4 separate regions of the Homo sapiens genome follow, and all the other regions are linked to region 4. Evidence: fine-mapped expression QTL. A gene starts in region 4. Each other region holds a variant in brackets. All regions are shown on one strand. Distances are from middle to middle. Region 1 overlaps FRG2B (FSHD region gene 2 family member B). Region 2 overlaps SCART1 (scavenger receptor family member expressed on T cells 1). Region 3 overlaps SCART1 (scavenger receptor family member expressed on T cells 1). Region 4 holds the start of CYP2E1 (cytochrome P450 family 2 subfamily E member 1).

What was found. PIP is the estimated chance that this variant, and not a neighbour inherited with it, causes the effect.
Region 1: its variant is the best candidate, but not a certain one, in a credible set for the expression of CYP2E1 in prefrontal cortex (ROSMAP, PIP 0.85).
Region 2: its variant is the best candidate, but not a certain one, in a credible set for the expression of CYP2E1 in whole blood (TOPMed, PIP 0.82).
Region 3: its variant is the best candidate, but not a certain one, in a credible set for the expression of CYP2E1 in Th1/17 cells (Schmiedel 2018, PIP 0.67).

What each region holds. Positions count from the first base shown.
Region 1 is chr10:133,619,409-133,624,561 of GRCh38, forward strand. It overlaps FRG2B (FSHD region gene 2 family member B), which reads right to left. Exons shown (of 4, transcript NM_001080998.2): 4 at 4,487-5,153. Among named protein-coding and RNA genes, the nearest start is that of FRG2B, 4.8 kb to the right of the region's middle. The variant A/C (reference allele first, on the strand shown) is at 2,896.
Region 2 is chr10:133,465,359-133,470,511 of GRCh38, forward strand. It overlaps SCART1 (scavenger receptor family member expressed on T cells 1), which reads left to right. Exons shown (of 12, transcript NM_001396050.1): 9 at 1-207; 10 at 877-1,023; 11 at 1,840-1,995; 12 at 2,489-4,402. The coding sequence ends at 2,610. Among named protein-coding and RNA genes, the nearest start is that of SCART1, 14 kb to the left of the region's middle. The variant G/A (reference allele first, on the strand shown) is at 2,789.
Region 3 is chr10:133,456,930-133,462,047 of GRCh38, forward strand. SCART1 (scavenger receptor family member expressed on T cells 1) reads left to right here. Exons shown (of 12, transcript NM_001396050.1): 3 at 350-646; 4 at 1,431-1,727; 5 at 2,092-2,397; 6 at 2,558-3,241. Among named protein-coding and RNA genes, the nearest start is that of SCART1, 5.5 kb to the left of the region's middle. The variant C/G (reference allele first, on the strand shown) is at 3,030.
Region 4 is chr10:133,525,021-133,530,146 of GRCh38, forward strand. CYP2E1 (cytochrome P450 family 2 subfamily E member 1) reads left to right here and starts at 2,343. Exons shown (of 9, transcript NM_000773.4): 1 at 2,343-2,552; 2 at 3,461-3,620. The coding sequence starts at 2,376. It overlaps LOC105378575 (a long non-coding RNA gene), which reads right to left and starts at 1,939. Exons shown (of 5, transcript XR_946512.3): 1 at 1,740-1,939; 2 at 1-1,123. RefSeq lists promoters at 1-2,350, 981-2,438, 1,797-2,350, cis regulatory regions at 790-796, 2,022-2,046 and enhancers at 968-1,380, 1,669-1,796.

The DNA of each region.
Region 1 (5,153 bases), 94 kb after region 4:
TGTTCACAACCTTCCTCATTGGGGAAAACCCAGTTGTTAAATTTTTTTTAGTGGGTGCAGCTCAGTGCTCACAGCCGTTTGCATCTGACCCGTCTCAGGTGTTCATAGCTGTCTTCATTGGGACCAGCCCCGCTGCTAACAGCTTCCCTCATCTCAGCCTCCCCAGTTGTCCATAGCCATCTTCTTTGTTTCTAGCCAAGTTCTTCACAGCTGTCCTCACTAGGCACAGCCCACTTAATCACAGCCATCCTCCTGAGGGCCAGCCAGTGTGTTCACCCCATGCTCACTGGGCCAGCCAAGATACTATAGCTACCTTTATCCAAGCCAATCCCCGTGTTTATAGCTGTCCTCTTTCGGCCCCCTCAGGTTTTCACAGCTGTCAACATTGGGTCTGGCCCAGTTGTTCACAGCCATTCTCATTTGGGTGATCTAAGGTGTTCATAACAATCAATAAGGCAGCCAGCCCAGGTGTTCTGGCTGGTTGTTCATGGGGGACCTGCCCAGGGCTTAAGAGCTGTTTTCCTTGAGCTCAACCGACCTTTTCGTAGCTGTCTTCATTGTGCACAGCCCAGGTGTTCACAGCTGTCCTCATGGGTCCTGTACAGTTATTCCCTGTGGTTCTCATGTAAGTCAGCTAAGATGTTCTGTCACTCACATTAGAGCCAGGTCCAATGTTCATAGCAGTCCTCATGGAGGTCTGCCGATTTGTTCACATCCATGCTAATTGAGGCCAGCCATTTGGACTGAAAAGCTTTCCCAAAGCTTTGCACTAATTCAAATGTCAATCTCACCCAGAGCCCCCTCTTGCATACCCAGCATAATGTTTGGCCAAATGTCTGTCCTCTGTGGGCCCGTCAGACGGACATGTGAAATTAACCTCAATGCAGGCTCTGAGGTTCCAGGCCCAGGCGGCCGGCATCCTCCAGCTTCCACTGATGTGTCCTGGGGGTTGCTGGGGACATGCTCTGCCTGGCTGCCTTGAGCTGTGACCTTGGTCTTTTCCAGGCTTTGGACTTGAACCTAAGCACAGGCTCTGTGGGTCTTGAGTGCCCAGCCTTCAGACTGGGATGAACTCCATCAGCTCTTTCGGGGTTCCAGCTGGCCAGTTGCAGATCTGGGGACTGCTTCATCTCCAGGGGATGTCATGCCCTGATGCCTTACTGAGCATCCCTAGTAGAATAAAATCAACATTCAGGGGTAGGGGGTCAACCTCAACCATCAACCACATTTACTGCCAAACCTGTAGGTTTTAAAAAATTCATTTCTTAATTTGCATAGAATAAAACACTCTTTTAGCTTATACTGTGGGTTTTGATAAATGCATAATTTGAGAACAGTTTGGCAGCTTCTTAGAGAGTTATATACACTTTCTCTATACAACCTAGCGATCGCACCCCTAGGCATTGGAACCCAAGAGAAATGAAACGTATGTTTTGGGATTCTGGCTTAACAAGACCTTTTCAAGGGGCCCTGGATTATTCAACTGGGAAAGGAATCTGTAAGAGTCATCTAGTCCAGGTGATTCAAAGGGTACCTGTGGAGTCTCTTTCGGGGCCATGAAGTGGGGCTGGGGGAAGCCCGGAGCTCTGGGGATCCTACCGTAACCCACCTGTTAACTTGTGAAAGACGCCTTCTGACCAATGATCACAAGATAAAAAACTTGGAAAGGCTCAAGAGAGTCTACATTACCCAAATAGATGTCAGCTACCCAGGAAGTTTACATGGTCCTAATTAGACCCTCCAAGGGAGGACAGCACAAGAGTGTGGACCCGGCGGTGGGCGTGAAGCTCTCCCCTGCTCCCTGCCCCTCATTACATTTCTTCCTCGCTCACTCCCCATGCAGGCGGCTCCAGGACTTGGCTTGTTGTCTGTCTCCCCTAAGAAGAACACAGCTTCTTGAGGGCAGGGCATTCTCTGTTACTGCAGGCTGTGTCCCCACCACCTGTCCTGTGGCAGCATCGGCATAGCTCAGAGCAGGTGCTGAATAAATGCTCGTGAACTTTGGAAACTTGTCACCATGCAGGATGAGAAAGGGCCATCCTCTCCCAGAGACGTGCATTTTCCTGTGTCACGGGGCCATGCGGTGATACACAGAAGTCTGGCTTCTGCAGGAGCAGGGAATCAACTTAAATGCCCATAATAACTGACTGGATCAAGAAAATGTAGTTCGTATGCTCCATGGAATACTATGCGGCTATAAAAAAGAAGAACACATCTTATTCAGAAACATGGACAGACCTGGAGACCACTATCCTAAGTGAACTAACTCAGGAACAGAAAAGCAAATACTGCACATTGTCACCTGTAAGTGGGAGCTAAATGATGAGAACACATGGACACAAAGAAGGGAACACCAGACACTGGGGCCTACTTGAGGGTGGGGGGTGGGAGGGGGAGAGGAGCAGAAGAGAGAACTATTGGGGGCCGGGCTCAGTACCTGGGTGATGAAATAATCTCCGTAACAAACCCCCATGACATGAGTTTACCTATGTGATAAACCTCTACATGCACCCCTGAACCTAAGATAAAAGTTAAAAAAAAGGTTTTGTGCTAAGAAAAAGCTTATTTTTTCATTCCCCTCCAGCTGTTAACTCACGGGGAGGCCCTCTTTCAGGGAGGCACAGAGGAAAATTAAGGGCTTCCTAGTGACAAGGCAGTTTGTCAGAAAGTCATGAGTGAGCACGGCAGGGCTGTGCAGGAAGTGTGTGTTGGACAGTATGACACACTGGCTTCTCACTCTGCTGCCTCTGATCAATAACACGTTTCCAGAAAGCCTTGTTTTCATGTATACAATGGAGTATAATTACTGCAAAGGTCCACTGAGACTTTTTTTTTTTTTGAGCCGGAGTCTCGCTCTGTCGCCCAGGCTGGAGTGCGGTGGCGCGATCTCGGCTC[A/C]CTGCAAGCTCCGCGTCCCGGGTTCGCGCCATTCTCCTGCCTCAGCCTCCCGAGTAGCTGGGACCACAGGCGCCCGCCACCGCGCCCGGCTAATTTTTTGTATTTTTAGTAGAGACAGGGTTTCACTGTGTTAGCCAGGATGGTCGCGATCTCCTGACCTCGTGATCCGCCCGCCTCGGCCTCCCACGGTGCTGGGATTACAGGCGTGAGCCACCACGCCCGGCCAAACCAACTTTTTTTTAAAAAGGAAGATTTCGTTTAAAAGAAACCACCCTGAAGGGTGGAGTGTGGAACTGAGCTTCCGTGACGGTCTTGAGTTTTCCAGGCCCTCTGTGGGTGTCGCCGTTGCCGTGATAGTCTCACACACGCGGGGGTGTGGATCTCGTTCGTTTTCATGTAGAAAACGAGAGCGAAACTGCAGAGAAAAGAAACGTCGGGTGCATCACGGCCTGACCACGGATTCCTGTTTCCTGCAACAAGGGGAGTCTCCACTGTGGCCGGTCTGGAAACCGGAAAGGAGAGCGAAGTCACGATGCTGCTTTTCCACGCTTCGCTGGAGGTTTCTGTGTCCCCGCAGAGCTCGGGAAACAGCCAACGTGGTCGCGCTTTCGGGGGCGGGAGACACGCGAGCAACAGGCCCCTTGCAGAGGGCGAAGGAGCGTGGAACCCGGAATCACGGTTCACTCGGCCCGAGTGTGACTCCCGTGTGGACGGGCCTGTCCGCCTCGCGCTCTGTTGCTCAACGCGGGGCCGTGTCGTCTGTGAACCACGTGGATGGAAAACGGACAATCACCCGCGTCTCGGCTCATTGCTCTCATTCCTTGGGAGGCGGAATTCGTCCGAATTGCTCCGGGATGAAGTGACCCGGGCCGGCGATCCGGAGGGCTGGTGAGCTGGTGGGCGCCCCGCAAGCAGACGCGGCTGTGGGCCGAGCTCTCGGCCTGCACCGGGCACCCCACGTTTTCCCGGAGTGCGAGGTCCCGCTGGCCCTGGAGGCGGAAGACCGCTTTCCTCTCTGCTTTCCTCTCTGCTTTCCTCTCTGTCTCTTGCTCCCTTTCTCCCTCTGTCTTTCCCTCCCTCCCTCCCTCCCTCCCCGCTCCCCACTTTCTCCTTTCCAATGTCCCTCTATCCATCCGTCCTTTTCTCGCTCCATTCCTCCCTTTCTCTCTGTCTCTGTTCCTCTCCCCATCTCTATTTTTCAACATTATATGATCCCATTGTGTGTATCTGTGTGTTAACATTTTTTTAGCAATAAAATTCACTTTCATTATGTACATTGTTATTTAGACACATTATTTATGTATGTGCATTTGTTTAATAGACATGATTTATTTCAGCGTTATTCTACAGCAGAGTGTAAGCATAACTCATAAGCAGGGTCAACCCAAAAATTGTGTGACTCGCGTTACTGTGATTCTTTTATACTGCAGTGCTCGAGAATAAAATCTCTGTATCTCCAATTCATATCTGTATATTACCATTGAATTGGCCCCATTTCCTGTAGTGATAGAACACTATTCCCGCACTATGACAAGAGCTGTGGGCTGTGGGGAGGTCAGGGATAGGATGACACGGAAGTGACAATAAGACATTCTCTTTTTCACATTTTTATTAAATACAAATTCCATATGAAAGAAATTTAAAATTCCAAACAACATTGTTTATTTCATTACATAAAATGAAAATTATAAAGCAACCAAACAATTAATACACTTAGATAATGAAATAGTGTATGATCTCAGTACAAAATACAAGTAGAATATACGTCAAATATAACAAAATACACTGTATTGTAGTACGTGATGAAATCTCCATATCCTGCAATATAGTACAATCAATTGAAATGTATAAAATATAATAAAATATAAATTTAGGATGTTTAAAATGAAATGAAACATGAGGCAGGTCAATAAATAAGTACAATCATTTACCATTTACTATATCTTGACTTAAATTTTATGTAGAAATATTAAAAGTAAACAGCTTGCATAGTAATTTTACTATAATTATATCAAACAAAATATATAGACATTTTCCCACAGGGAGTGCTATTAATGGTTTGTGGATATTAGTACTCCATGGGTTCAGGCTGGAAGAGTGAGAGCCTACAACCTTTTCTGGATTAAAAGAGAAGCAATTTCTTGGTAAGGCGGCTCATGCCTGTAATCCCAGCACGTTGGGAGGCGGAGGCTGGCAGATCACCTGAGTTCGAGGCCAACCTGGCCAAAGTGACAAAACTCTGTCTCTACTAACAATAC
Region 2 (5,153 bases), 60 kb before region 4:
CGGACGCGGAGGTCGTGTGCCGCCAGCTGGGCTGTGGTCGGGCCGTCGCCGCCCTGGGGGCCGCCGCCTTTGGCCCTGGCTCCGGGCCCGTGTGGCTGGACGAGGTGGGGTGCCGGGGCAGCGAGGCGTCCCTGTGGGGCTGCCCTGCGGAGCGGTGGGGACGCGGAGACCGCGCGCACGAGGAGGACGCGGGCGTGCGCTGCTGGGGTGAGTGGGGGGCGGTGGGAAGTCGGTCATGGGGCCGGCAGAGGGCGCTGGGATGGAGTCAGTCTTGAGTGTCACTTCGGTGGGCAGGAGAGCTCGCCCAGGTGTTAGTGGGTTGGTTTCCACCCTGGGATTTTTCTGGGATAGGCTGATTTGCTGTGGAGGCCTGTTTGGGACATGCACTCCCTGGGGTTTCCCCCTAATCTTTTTTGGGAATTCCCTTTTGTTTATTCCAATCCTTGTTCATTTCGGGTATGTGTCACCTGGGTGTTGGCAGGTTCAGTTGTTCCCTGCACCTCATTCTCTTTGCAGAAAACAAACAGTTAACCACAGTGATGACCTTAGCAAAAGCAGCAGCAGTGGTAACTTTCCCTGAGCCACTCCCATTCTCTGTGCTCTGGTCACCTCTTGTGACTTGCCCTGGCATCTGCCTGGGGGCCATGTTTTACCAAGGAAGGGGGCTGTCCCTTGAAAGCAGACACCCCCAGTGGACACTAGCCATTTTGGGGTGCTCTGCACAGCTGAAACCAGCAGATGCCCCCCCAGCACTTCCGACTCGCAGGTCCTCCATGAGGGAGAGGGTGTGGCTGGGCCCTTGGAGCCACCCTGTCCTGCTGAGGGTGTGCAGGTCCCCCCCACCACCCAGCTGGCTCAAGACCTCTCCTTTCTCAGAGCCTGGCCCAGGCCCCCCACTGCCTGCAGCTCCCTTCCGGACATTCTGGGTGGTCAGTGTCGTCCTGGGATCCCTTCTTGGTCTTCTCCTTCTGGGCCTCATGGCTTTTCTGATTCTGCCTCGAGTCACACAAGCCATGCAGAGGGGTAAGCGTGAGCCCACCCTGATCCCATCAACTGGTGTGCAGGAGCAAGAGCAGCTCACAGCTCCAGCCTGGTGTTGGGGTCTGGGCAGGCGGGGTGCCCCACAGCAGTCAGGCCTATGCAGACCTACCCCCAAAGTCCAAGGAACTGAGAAGCTGAAGAAAGAGGCAGACAAATCCAGTTCCTTAGAAAGAAACACTTAAAAGGGACTTATGAAGACAAGCCATGTCCATGCCTTGGATGGCCTCTAGCTGAGACGGTGGATGCCCATATTATCATCCCTCACAACTAGAACTTATATACCTCAGGGGAAGGGGACATGTAGGACAATTGCTTAAGGGCAGGATTTACAGTGAATGCATGCTCTTATGCAAGGAACAGTAGATAAAATAGAAATCTTAGAGGCCTTCCCGGAACTGGAGTTGGTCAGAAGTCAACACGGTGGATCAGCATTCAGGGCAGAGTTGCTTCAGCCTGCAGGCTGATCTCACTTAGGGCTCATTTTATTGGCCAGAGAGAGTGGCAGACATCTGCATCAGCCTCCAGCCCTCAAGACTGAGCTCAACCCTAGAAGGTTCCCCCAGGCAGCACATTGGGGCCCACTGGGAAGCATCATGTGGTTTGCTGGCAAGGGACGGTGGCCAGGGATGGGAGGGCACTGGGAGTCTGGCTATGTTGCCGTGGTCCCTCCATCCCAGCCCACAGCATCCTGCCTCTTTGCTGCCTGGCTGGGGTTCCTGCCTGGAGTTGCTGTCCTCCCTTGCCTGTGGCCACATCCACACTGAGGGCCTGTGTGTGACCATGCTCACCTTGCCTCAGGTCTGGGAAGATCCGAGGTATCTCCTGGAGAAGCCATCTATGATGTCATTGGGGAAATGCCGCCAGCAGGACTGTACGAGGAAATCATGGAGGCCGAGGCTGTGCTCCAAGATGAGGAGGACGGAAGTGTGGTGAAGGTGGACACAGAAGCCGCAGGTGGGTTTGTGCTCCAGCTCAGGGGTGAGCTCTGGGGTGGGCTACGGATGCTGACCACAAGATGCAGTGGAAAGGGACTCTGACCACAGGAGCCTGGCTTCAGAAGGCTGCTGACCACAGGGCTCATGGATGCAAAGGGACTCGTGGGCAGGGGAGAGCAGGGCCACACCCATGAGGGCAGAGTCAGTGGCTGGAGTCCCCATCGGAGAGGCCTGCCCTGTGGTGGGAGAAGAGGGCTGGTCGGGTGTGCTGGGAGCCGCGGGTCTGGCAGGGGCATATGCTGCAGCTCACTCAGCCTCAGTTTCATCACCTGTGGGAGCTGTGCTGCTGTCACAGGCTGCTTGGGGTGCTTCAATGTCAGGATGCCTTGAACATTGCCAGGTGCTTTCTGGTTGACATGTTTATGCGTTCCTGTCTTACGGGCTTTGCCAAATGTGCTCTGGGGACAACTTGCACGTGTGCTGATTTGGTCACGCGGTGTCTCTTGCGCCAGTTTCAGGGGAGGTGTCTAACCTCCTGGAGGGACAGTCTATACGTGCGGAGGGAGGACACAGCAGACCTGTTTCTCAGGGATATGACGAGGCTGCGTTTCCTCTGGAGGAGATGACGTTGTAAAGCAACCTGAGGATGAGATACACCAGCTGGCTGTCGAAATCACAGCTCTTCATTTTCTTGTACAATTGTAGTGGATTTCGTGAGAACACCTTGGATGCCTTTCTCTTGCAATGTCCTCCATGTCCATGTAAAATCCAGTCCTTCCAGGCCCTGCCTGGCTCTAAACCTCATCCCCTTC[G/A]AGGGCCATCTGCTGTGGACAGTTGTGCTGTGTAACCTTCAGATTTCCCACACATTACAGCAAATGCAAATACACATAGAAATCAGTGGTTCCATTTGTGGTTTAGAGACACATGGTGCCATCTTCATCTTCCGCTCCACAGCTCGCTTCTGGCACCCAGCAGTGGGTTGCAGAGCTCCCCATGCCAGAACCTTCCTCTTTTTTCTTAAAAACTCTTCTTAATTGAATCCAAAGTATCTTTTAAATGTTCTACTTGTGTAATCATGTCATCTGTGAATATTCAGATTTATCTTCTCCTTCCAATCCGTGTACATTTAATCTCTTTTTCTGTGCCTTATTTCGGGGGCTGGGACCCTTCAGTCCAGTGTTGAAGAGAGGCAGCCAGTGGAGGTCTTGTCTCATTCAAGGACTCAGAGCAAATGTGTTCCACATTTAATTTCACTATGAAATATAATATTTGATGTTCAGTTTTGTAGATGCTATTTATCAGATCAAGGAAAGCCCAGTCTATACCTAATTTGTTAAGGGTTTTGCTTTTTATCATAAGTGTTGACTTTTATCAAATTCTTTTTTGTATCTATTAAGATGATAGATGATTGATTTTCATATGTTAAATTAACCATGGGTTAAACAAACTTACCTTTATCATGATATATTATTCTTTTTGTATTTCACAGGAATTAGTTTGGTAATATGTTGGGTCAATGTTTAAAAAAGAAAATGATGTGTAATTTTTTTCTTTTATTGTAGTATTTCTGTTTAATTTTTGGTATGAGGATTATTCAGGTCTCATAAGAGTTAGGAGTATATTCTCTTTTAAAAAATATTTGCTAATTTACACTCCCACCAACAGTGTAAAAGTGTTCTTATTTCTCCACATCCTCTCCAGCATCTGTTGTTTCCTGACTTTTTAATAATCGCCATTCTAACTGGCATGAGATGATATCTCATTGTGGTTTTGATTTGCATTTCTCTAATGACCAGTGATGATGAACTTTTTTTCATATGTTTGTTGGCTGCATAAATGTCTTCTTTTGAGAAGTGTCTGTTCATATCCTTCACCCACTTTTTGATGGGGTTGTTTGCTTTTACCTTGTAAATTTGTTTAAGTTCCTTGTAGATTCTGGACATTAGCCCTTTGTCAGATGGATAGATTGCAAAAATTTTCTCCCATCCCGTAGGTTGCCTGTTCACTCTGATGACCTATCAATGATAGACTGGATAAAGAAAATGTGGCACATATACACCATGGAATATTATGCAGCCAGAAAAAAGGATGAATTCATGTCCTTTGCAGGGACGTGGATGAAGCTGGAAAACATCATTCTCAGCAAACTAACACTGGAACAGAAAACCAAACACTGCATGTTCTCACTCATAAGTGGGAGTTGAACAATGAGAACACATGGACACGGGGAGGGGAACATCACACACTGGGGCCTGTCAGGGGGTGGGGGGCTAGGGAAGGGATAGCATGAGGAGAAACACCTAAGGTAGATGACGGGTTGATGGGTGCAGCAAACCACCACGACACGTGTATACCTATGTAACAAACCTGCACATTCTGCACAGGTACCCCAGAACTTAAAGAATAATTTAAAAAAATTTGCAAGAGTTTATGTAGCATTGGTTTTATTTCTTCTTAAATGTTGGAAGAACTCACTAGTAAAGCTCTCTAGGCTTGGAGTTTCCTCTTTAGTGAGGTTTTTTTTTTCCAGATTTAATTTTTTAAAATAAATAGTTGAAGTATTCAGATTCTCTATTTCCTATTAGATCTGCTTTGTTCAGTCCTTTTAAAAAATGAATTGGTACATTTAATCTAAATTTTCAAGTTTTTCCATATAAATTTGTTAATAGTATCTTTCTACTAGCCTTAATGTCTACAAAATCTGTAGTCATGTGCATTTTTCAATCCTGATAGTGGCAATTTGTGTCTTCTCTCCTTTTTTTTTTTTTTTTTCGAGACCAAGGTCTCACTGTGTTGCCCACACCAGACTCAAACTCCTGGGCTCTAGCGATCCTCCCTCACAGCCCCCCGCACAGCTGGGACTCTGGGCACTCTGCTGTTCTTGACCGGTGCTGCTGGCGGCTTCATCTCATTAGTCTTTCCAAGGCACGTGGAGCTTGTGCCTTTGGTTTTCTTGATTTTTCTTGGTGAACATCTGCCTTCTAATTCGTTTATTTCTGTTCTCATCTTTGTGATTTCCTTCTGCTTATTCTAGCTTTTTTATATGGACATTCAGATTGTTGATATTCAGCATTTTTTCTTTTTTAATGCATATATTTTAGGTTATAACTTTCCCTTTTAGCATGGCTTTGGCTGCATTCCAAGAGTTTTGATATGTTGTGATTTTGTTTTAATAGG
Region 3 (5,118 bases), 68 kb before region 4:
GGTCTGGCTCGAGGGTCCTCAGCTGTCCCTCACATTTTATGTGGCTGTGAGGACCCCCTCATAGCGTCCTGCCTCTGAGGCTGAACCACCTGGCCAGGACCTCCTACCATTTTGGGGCCCAGTGTGAACGGATCCTGCGGGGAACCTTGTTTCAGGAGACCAGCAGCAGAGCATGAAGCTGGGCACAGGGGTCTCTCTGAGCCCAGGGCCCTGTGTGACTGCCCGGTCACCTGCCCCTGAAGCTGGCCCTGGCTCAGCCCATCACTGTCCTCCCTGAAAAAGGAGCTGCCGAGTGACCATGCGGCCAGCTGGGTCCATACCTTAAGGAGGACCGGCCTGTGCTCCACAGACGGCACTTTCCGGGAGCTCCGGCTGGTGAAGGGCCGCAGTCCCTGCGCGGGACTCCCCGAGATCAGAAACGTGAATGGGGTGGACCGCCTCTGTGTCCTGCATGTGGAGGAGGCCATGGTGTTCTGCCGGGAGCTGGGGTGCGGCCCTGTGCTCCAGGCCCCCCGCCGGGACGTGGGCGTCGTCAGGAAGTACCTGGCCTGCAGGGGTACCGAGCCCACCATCCGCAGCTGCAGACTGGACAACAACTTCCGCAGCGGCTGCGACCTGCGGCTGGACGCAGAGGTGGTCTGCTCAGGTGAGGCTGCCACCTGATGTTCCCAGTGACCCTTGGGATGATGCTGGGCCCGGACCTGGGGAGGGCAGGGAGAAGGGGGGTGGGCGTTCCCACGGATGGGCCCCCCTGTCCTGCATGAGACATTGGGCGCAGAGGTGGGAAAGGGCCTCAGCTCTCACGCTGGTTCTCAGCAGAGTGGAGCTGAGTTTCTGGTGGCCCCACAGAGGTGTCCTGGCTCAGAACCCGCAGGCCATCTAGGGGTCCTGGCTGCCGCTGCAAGTCTGAGCTGCCTCAGCTGTGATCTCTGCATGTCTAACATGGATCGGGGTTGGGTAGAGGTCACTTCTTCCCAGCCCTGCCTCAACTGTGTGTGAGCTGCACTGGCCTCACAGCTCCTGGCCTTGTTGTGCATATGAGGAGCAGCTGAAATGAGGTGGATAGTCTGCCTGCTGCGGTACCCCAGAGAGGGTGGTGCTCAGTGGACCAAGGGGTGCCCTGACCTCGCCTCTGGGATTGCAGAGGGTGTTGCTGTCATGGCCTCGGACAGGCAGAGGCTGTGAAATACGTGAGCACCTGCAGCAGGTGACCCTGACCCTGACCTTGGTGATGCGGCCAAGGACGTCTGCTCTGCTCTGGGTGCCGGGTGGAAGGGCCTGTGGCTGCAAGTTCCTGCCTGTGCTTGGTAGACCCTCTGCCTAGATGCAGGTGATGGCTCCTGGCTGAAGCCTTCCGCAGTCTGAGGCTCAGGGCCAGGCTGTTGACCTGAGAACACCTGTCTCCTGCCTGAGAGGACGTCTGCCCCCAGGACACACCGAGGCCCGACTGGTGGGCGGCGAGCACCCCTGCGCCGGGCGCCTGGAGGTGACCTGGGGCACCGTCTGTGATGCGGCCCTGGACCTGGCCACGGCCCACGTGGTGTGCCGGGAGCTGCAGTGTGGGGCGGTCGTGTCCACGCCCGAGGGCGCCCGCTTCGGCCGGGGCTCGGGGCCGGTGTGGACGGAGGCCTTCCGCTGTGCGGGCAACGAGTCGCTGCTGTTCCACTGCCCACGGGGGCGTGGGAGCCAGTGTGGGCATGGTCACGACGCGGGGCTCAGGTGCTCAGGTGAAGTCCTGTGTGTGGGCTCTGAAGGCTCAGCCCTGCCTTGTTCTCTGTCAAATCCCTTCGTGCCCTAAAGGTGCCTCTGGCCAGTAGGTGTGGGTGCTTTTGATGTTTGCTTCTGTTGGTTGAAAGAAGCGCAGGGAAGAGACTGGGTGTAGAGTGATGTACCCCAAGGCTGCAGCTAAGATCAAATTCTTCTGGAGAGCTGTGTGAGCTGGATGCTGATGCAGAGGAGGGTGGGGGAGCTGGTGAGACCAAGGCTGGGCTCTGTGCCCATCCCACTGGGTGTGAAGGAAGGAAATGACCACAGACAGCCATGTTCTGGGTCGGCCGTCTGCAAGCCAGGCTGACTCCTCCTCTCCCCCAGAGTTCAGGATGGTCAACGGCAGCAGCAGCTGTGAGGGCCGCGTGGAGTTCCAGGTGCAGGGGTCCTGGGCACCCCTCTGTGCCACCCACTGGGACATAGCAGATGCCACCGTCCTCTGCCACCAGCTCAACTGTGGCAACGCGGTGGCCGCACCTGGAGGAGGCCATTTTGGGGACGGGGACGCTGCCATCTGGCCTGATGCCTTTCACTGTGAGGGGACAGAGTCCTACTTGTGGAATTGCCCAGTAAGCACCCTGGGGGCCCCGGCCTGTGCCCCGGGAAACACAGCCTCCGCGGTCTGCTCAGGTGGGTGCAGCCAGGACGGTGGACCAGGAGGGTGAGTGAGAGGCATGGACAGAGGAGTGCAAGGAAGGACAGAGGGGGCGGAGAGGTACGGGCCCTGCTGGGGGGTGGTCCTGGGTCCCTCCCGCTGACATCTTGGGCCCCTGTGCGTCCCCATCCCCAGGTCTGGCCCACGCCCTGCGACTGAGGGAAGGACAGAGCCGCTGTGACGGCCGCGTGGAGGTCTCCCTGGATGGCGTGTGGGGCCGCGTCCTGGACGATGCCTGGGACCTGCGCGGCGCGGGCGTGGTGTGCCGGCAACTCGGGTGCAGAGGGGCCCAGCAAGCCTATGACGCACCTGCCCCCAGCCGCGGATCCGTCCAGGTGGCGCTGAGCCGCGTGCGCTGTCTGGGCACCGAAACCCGCCTGACTCAGTGCAACGTGTCCGCGACCCTGCAGGAGCCCGCGGGGACCTCGCGGGACGCCGGCGTGGTGTGCTCCGGTGAGGTCGGAACCGCGTCCCCCATGGCCCGTCGCCACGGGATCCCGGGCGCCCTGACTCTGTCTCTCCACAGGGAGCCTCAGGGTGCGGCTGGCCGCGGGGCCGGGGCGCTGCACGGGGGCGCGTGGGGCACCGTGTGTGACGATGCCTGGGA[C/G]CTGCGGGACGCGCACGTGGTCTGCAGGCAGCTGGGCTGTGGCCGCGCCCTGAGCGCCCTGGGGGCCGCACACTTCGGAGCCGGGGCAGGGCGCATCTGGCTGGACGAGCTGGGCTGCCAGGGCCACGAGTCTGCGCTGTGGCAGTGCCCGTCGGCGGGCTGGGGGCGGCACGACTGGAGGCACAAGGAGGACGCCGGCGTCTTCTGCTCAGGTGAGCGGCCGTTGGGTATGGAATGATCATGCTGTTTTATTACGTACAGTCATGCGCACTTGCTTTCCAGAACAGCATCAAACTATCGGGAGCTGTTCTCTTCCCTGAATGCAGAACTTCCACAGTGGATTGGGTGAGGTTCCTGTTGGTATAGTAAGTGCTACCGGACAAAGTACTTTGGTTCCGTGCACCTGGGGAGCTGGTCAGCTTCCTGTCGCAGGTTGGCCCTGGGGCAGCCCCACCTGGGCTCATTTTCCGCCGTAACCAGCTCAAGTGCGCTTGAAGTTTCCATCCGAAATTCATATATATATATATATATTTATATATTTTAAAAAATATTTTATATTTATTTAAATATTTATTTATTTATTTATTTATTTATTTTGAGACGGTCTCACTGTGTTGCCCAGGCTGGAGTGCAGTGGCCCCATCACCGGTCACCGCAGTCTTGACCTCCTGTAGTCCAGGGATCCTTCAGCCTCAGCCTCCCAAGCTGCTGGGACTACAGAAGTGAGGCACTGCCGCTGGCTTCAGATTCTTAATTTTGATCCATATTTTGGTGTACTGGAGAACTTTTTGCAGACTTTTTTTTTTTTGACAAGATCTTGGTCAGGCTAGAGTGCAATGGTGCAATCTTGACTCAGTGCAACCTCTGCTTCCTGGGCTCAAACCATCCTCCTGCCTCAGCCTCCCAAGTAGCTGGGACTACGGGCATGTGCCACCATGTCTGGCTAACGTTTATTTTTGTAGAGATGGAGTTTCACCATGTTGCCCAGGCCGGTCTCAAACTCCTGGACTCAAGCGATCCACCTGCCTCAGCCTCCCAAAGTGTTGGGATTACAGGTGTGAGCCACCGCACCTGACCATTTTGCAGACTATTTTTGAGATGGTGGATGAGCTTTATTATTATTATTATTATTATTCACACATACCTGAGCGTCTTTGTGTTCTGATCTTGTCCAGGTGTGGTCATTCTTGGGTGATGGAATTTTGTCATTTTGGGGGATGGGTTCTCTGGAGAAGCCTGTGAGTGGGTCACGGGCTGCCCACCTGACCTGCGGCCTCCTGAGCGGGTCACGGGCTGCCCATCTGACCTGCGGTCTCCTGAGAGGGTCACGGGCTGCCCATCTGACCTGTGGTCTCCCAGGGTATTTTCAGGCAACCCTGGGGGAGAGGCTGGATGCTGGCAGAGTCTCTGGCAGCTTATCCAAGTGTGGGCTCTTCTCATTGATTTTGGTTTATATTTTACTTTAGGAACGCTTTCTTCAGCGATATCTTGGATTATTACGTTTATTTCAATTACTGTGTTCTTTGTATGCAATGCTGGAGTCTCGTGAGTTTGAGCCTTCCCTATGCTTCTGAAATTAATTTTGGCATGACTCTTTCCCCAGGCATTCTTGGGGTGTTTCTCCAGGTGGCACCCACGTCACAATCTGTGTTTCTGTCGATTCTGCTCTTCAGTCCTTTGGTGTATTATTTCGCCCTCCTCACCTCGTCCATCATCTCATTTTTGTGTCTTTATTCTCGGCAGCTTGTTTTCTCCTAATGACATGATGCTCTGCTCTCATAAAAGGTCCATCTTTTTCTGGCATCTCAGTGAGAATGACAGGTCATTTTCTAGAACATTCTGCTGGTTTCTGTGGAAAGCGGCGGATGTTAGCCCTTCCTCTGCATCTTCCATGTTGTCCTTGCTCTCTGGTTTGCAGCATTTTCCTCCGGTGGCTGCTTTATTTGTTTTTCTGTGAAGCTTCATTCTGGGGACCCCATCTGAGCTGGCATCTACAGGCACCCGGCTGTCAGACCATCTGCTGGAGCCAGCATGTTGGGCACAGCCAGTTCAATTCCTGGGGCTGCCTCTTTTTCACCTGGGTCTCAGC
Region 4 (5,126 bases):
TAAACACTGTTAGTTATCTAGAGAAAGAAGAAAATTGTCCCAATACAGTCACCTCTTTGCCACACCCAGCCAACAGCAGACGTGATGGAAGCCTGAAGAACACCCTGCCACGGGCACAGGCAGAGGCACAGGCACCCTGTCGTCCTGATTATTTCACCTTGTCACGGGCAGAGGCACAGGCACCCTGTCGTCCTGATTATTTCACCTTGTCACGGACAGAGGCACAGGCACCCTGTCGTCCTGATTATTTCACCTTGTCACAGGCACAGGCACCCTGTCGTCCTGATTATTTCACCTTGTCACAGGCACAGGCACTCTGTCGTCCTGATTATTTCACCTTGTCACGGGCAGAGGCACAGGCACTCTGTCATCCTGATTATTTCACCTTGTCCTAGAGTGTCCTGCCAATGGGACAGATGCAAAACAAATAAAAGCCCCGGCTTCTGAAAAGAAGCACACAGAAATGTCATTATTTTCAAACGAGGTGTTCCCGTATATAAAATTTGATGTTGGTTGGGCATCTAACAGTATTATGGCCAGAGGACTCAGACCACAGCTGCATCCCTGTGAGGCACAGACTCTCCAGGGCACGCGGGTCCCGCCTGGGATGTGCACACTCAGGTGAGCTGCACAGACAAGGTGTCCTCAGCCCAGGGGAGCCAGAGGCCTGCTCTGCCTCTCCACCCTGATGCTTCCTGTTCTCACCCCACCAAAGCCAAGGCTTCAATTTCAGTCTGTGGGGAGCTGACTCTGCTGCTCTCAAGCACTAGAAGAAGGAACCAGTAATCGAGGAAACTTGTGGACCCCAATGGGTGTCTGTCCCGGCCAGGCCTGGCTGGGCCCACACAGGACAACAGGGTTCAGGGGTCTGGACAGCTGTTTCTGCCCAGGGAATTGTCCCTGCCACCTCACACTGGCCACTGGAAAGGAAAGAGAGGAGGAGGCGGCAGGCTAACCCACCCGTGAGCCAGTCGAGTCTACATTGTCAGTTCTCACCTCGAGGGGTGCCAAAAACCAGAGGGAAGCAAAGGCCCCTGAAGCCTCTGCCAGAGGCCAACGCCCCTTCTTGGTTCAGGAGAGGTGCAGTGTTAGGTGCAGCACAACCAATGACTTGCTTATGTGGCTAATAAATTGTCAAGAGAAAAACTGGGTTAGAATGCAATATATAGTATGTAGTCTCATTTTTGTATAAATACAAGTATAGAATGGCATAACTCAAAATCCACAAGTGATTTGGCTGGATTGTAAATGACTTTTATTTTCTTCATTTCTCATCATATTTTCTATTATACATAAAGATTCATTGTTAATATAAAAGTACAAAATTGCAACCTATGAATTAAGAACTTCTATATATTGCCAGTTAGAAGACAGAATGAAAAACATTCTCTTCATTCTAACCACACACACAAAAAAGCTCCACAAAATACCTATGGACTACCTTCATAGAAGGTGGAAGAGGGTCTGTATGAAGAAAATAATTAATACATGAAAGAAGAAGCTAGTCAATGTGGAGCTCTATTGTGTCCCGGGATCAACAAAGACAAGATATCTTTAAAATCGTCTTCTAAATTTACCCTAATGTAAAACAAATCCAATAAAACTCTAATGTAATTTTTTAAGAATTTAAATTTGGAATAATTCCAAAGAACAATTTTTCTTAATTTTCTACAGCCAGAATATATACCTTTAAAAAAAATGAAAACAGAGATTAACTTTCTCAGAATTGGTTGACTCACTCTTTCCTTTTATTTTTCTTCCATGGAATTTTCCAGTTAACTTGAGAAAGTGGAATCGAATTCCGATGTTGAATTTTCCTTCTGGCCCCATTCATGTGGCAGGTGGTGATTCAGGTACTACTGGGGGCTGCTCAGACAAACCTCCTCATCAGACATCAAGAGGCTGTTGCACCAGGAGGGCCGGTACCGTGTCTAGAGGTGGTCGGCATGGGGTTGGAGTTGTATTACATAAACCCTACTCCAAACAAATGCATGGGGATGTGGCTGGAGTTCCCCGTTGTCTAACCAGTGCCAAAGGGCAGGACGGTACCTCACCCCACGTTCTTAACTATGGGTTGGCAACATGTTCCTGGATGTGTTTGCTGGCACAGTGACAGGTGCTAGCAACCAGGGTGTTGACACAGTCCAACTCCATCCTCACCAGGTCACTGGCTGGAACCCCTGGGGGCCACCATTGCGGGAATCAGCCTTTGAAACGATGGCCAACAGCAGCTAATAATAAACCAGTAATTTGGGATAGACGAGTAGCAAGAGGGCATTGGTTGGTGGGTCACCCTCCTTCTCAGAACACATTATAAAAACCTTCCGTTTCCACAGGATTGTCTCCCGGGCTGGCAGCAGGGCCCCAGCGGCACCATGTCTGCCCTCGGAGTCACCGTGGCCCTGCTGGTGTGGGCGGCCTTCCTCCTGCTGGTGTCCATGTGGAGGCAGGTGCACAGCAGCTGGAATCTGCCCCCAGGCCCTTTCCCGCTTCCCATCATCGGGAACCTCTTCCAGTTGGAATTGAAGAATATTCCCAAGTCCTTCACCCGGGTAAGAGAAATAGTGTTGATTTTAGGGAGAATAACTCAGCAATTGGATCTGGTATGTGTGTATTCAACTCATTTGCAGACAAATTGTGGTTGTTCAATACCAGCCTGTTGTGAATTACCTGAATTGATAGCATCCTGGAGCGACACTCAAAATGTGTCGCCTGTGGTGCAGCTGGAGCCCGGAGCCTGCGTGCCAGGCCCCGGAGGCCCCCGCCGGTGCCTTGTCCTGGGGCTGATGATGGGGAGGCCGGCGAGGCCGGGCTGCTGCGACGCCAGGATAACCGGGCTGGCGGCCAGATGCGCACTCGCTGGGCGTCCGCCTGTGTTTGCCAAAGCACGAGTTGAAACGTGAAGTGTTGGGCCAGCCCGTGTGGCACCAATACCTGCCGCCTACGACTGTTGTGAACACTGAATGGGCCAACAAACCTAAACGTTAAATGAACTGATAACGCCGTCAGCACGGAGCAGGCGCTGGGTGTTTGCGCTCTTGCGCGTGCGCTCTGTGGGGCGCAGGCTGACGGCGGGCGGGGGTCGCCTGCTCCAGCTCGGGCTCCCGCGCCAGAACCGGGTCCAGAACCTTGATTCCGGAAGCGGGCAACGGGGTGGTTGGTGGGCGCGCCTGAGGGAAGGGACGTGAGGAGCCGGAGTCCGCGGAGTTGCCGCGGAGTTGTCCGCGGAGTCCAGGCGGGTGGGGAGCAGAGCAGCTGGAACCCCCCGAGCGCCCTGCAGACGCAGCAGCCTCTTGAGGGGAGGGTCTCCCCCACCTCGGGCTGGACAAAGACAGCTTTTCCCCACGTCCCTCTGGGTTCTCTAGAGCAACAGCAATACCCGCCCGGCAGGGGTGTGGCTTAGAGCCCCGCACCTCCTCGCCGCGCGGCGGGCCTGACTTCTAGCCACGGGTCTCCGCAGTTGGCCCAGCGCTTCGGGCCGGTGTTCACGCTGTACGTGGGCTCGCAGCGCATGGTGGTGATGCACGGCTACAAGGCGGTGAAGGAAGCGCTGCTGGACTACAAGGACGAGTTCTCGGGCAGAGGCGACCTCCCCGCGTTCCATGCGCACAGGGACAGGGGTGAGTCCGCGTCCCTGGCACGGAGCGGGGGGTGCATAACACGCCCCGGGACAGTTACGGGCGCTAGCCACGTCGGCGATGGCCAAATAATAAACTAACAGTAATATTATAGTAACAGCATCCGAAGGATGAGATCAGGATTAGGGCGATGGCCCCCGCGCGTTGCCTGCGGAGCGAGGCGCACTGAGTCGCCCAGGAATCCGGCCTCTCGGCGACTGTGCGGGAGAGTTTATGGGGATGGGCGGGGCTGCTTCTGAGCAGGAGTCGCCGCCCCCACCCCCACCGTTCCGCCTCTGGGCCCGCAGGCTCCTCCCGGGAGCGCTTTCCCCTCCTGTTCAACCGCCGGGGTACAGGTGGCTTCGTCCACCGAGGTCCCCTCACCCACGCTGAGGCGTCGGAAGCTGCGGACACTGCTCGCTTCAGGGCTTTGCTCAGCTGCAGCTGGTGACCTCCAGAGAGGGAGTCTCTGATGTCCCGCTGGGGTGGATGTCCTGAGACCGGGAAGGGGGAAGAGACCCACTGAAATCCTATCTCCCAGCCTCACCTCTGCTGTCTCCTCCACGCTTCCTGTCTCCAGAGCCCCGAGTTCAGCATAAGCAGAAAGCGGCCTGTTCCCTCTCTAGGGAGAGGAGGGTTGCGGTCTGGAGGTCTGGCTCGTCTTTATCTGCGCATTCTCCCAGCCTCCTGGCTTCAGACCTCAGCGAGGCGGCGGCTGCCGGCCGGCTCTCCTCTTCCTGCCTGCAGACCTGGCCTGCTGCTTCTTTCTCCTTCCTCCCTCCCTGCCTGCCCTGCGGTTTCAAAGTAGATTAGAAATAACAGTGTCCCACATGGAAGCCTCTACTTCTTCCTGGGTCAACTTTGATGACGAGGCTCCAGAAAACCTTTGCAATGCTGTGTGGAATTTTTAAATCGGTGAGCTCGTGCTCTTGCCCTATTTATTTGTCCAGCGTACATTTCTGAACATTGTGAACGTCGAATGGGCCAACAAATCTAAAAATTAAATGAGCTGATAAAGAACGCCGTCAGCACAGAGCAGACGCTGGGTGTTCGCGCTCTTGAGCGTGCGCTCTGCGGGGCGCGGGCTGGTGGCGGGCGGGGGTCGCCGGCTCCAGCTCAGGTTCCCGCGCCAGGACCGCGTCCAGAACCTTGTCTCCGGAAGCGGGCAACGGGGTGGTTGTATCACAATTAGTGGCATTTGGTTTTCCTTCTTCTGCATTGTGGGTTTTACTTCTCTGGGGTTGCCAAAAACAAAATTAACCATCTCAGTCCTTGTCGTTAACGCAGGAGAAGCATTACTGGAGGAGGCTCTGGGGTTCTGTGGTTGAGGAGCTCAGTTCTGGTTCCGGGGAGCCCTTATCTGCCACCCACGGGTCCAAGGCACAGTCGGAGGCAGCAGGGAGGGGAGCGGAATTCACATCAACACAGATGGGGCTCAAGGGGACTTTGCTGCCTCTGCCTGGAGGGTCTAAAGTTTCATTTTCATATGACCCGCAGGGCGCAGACTGG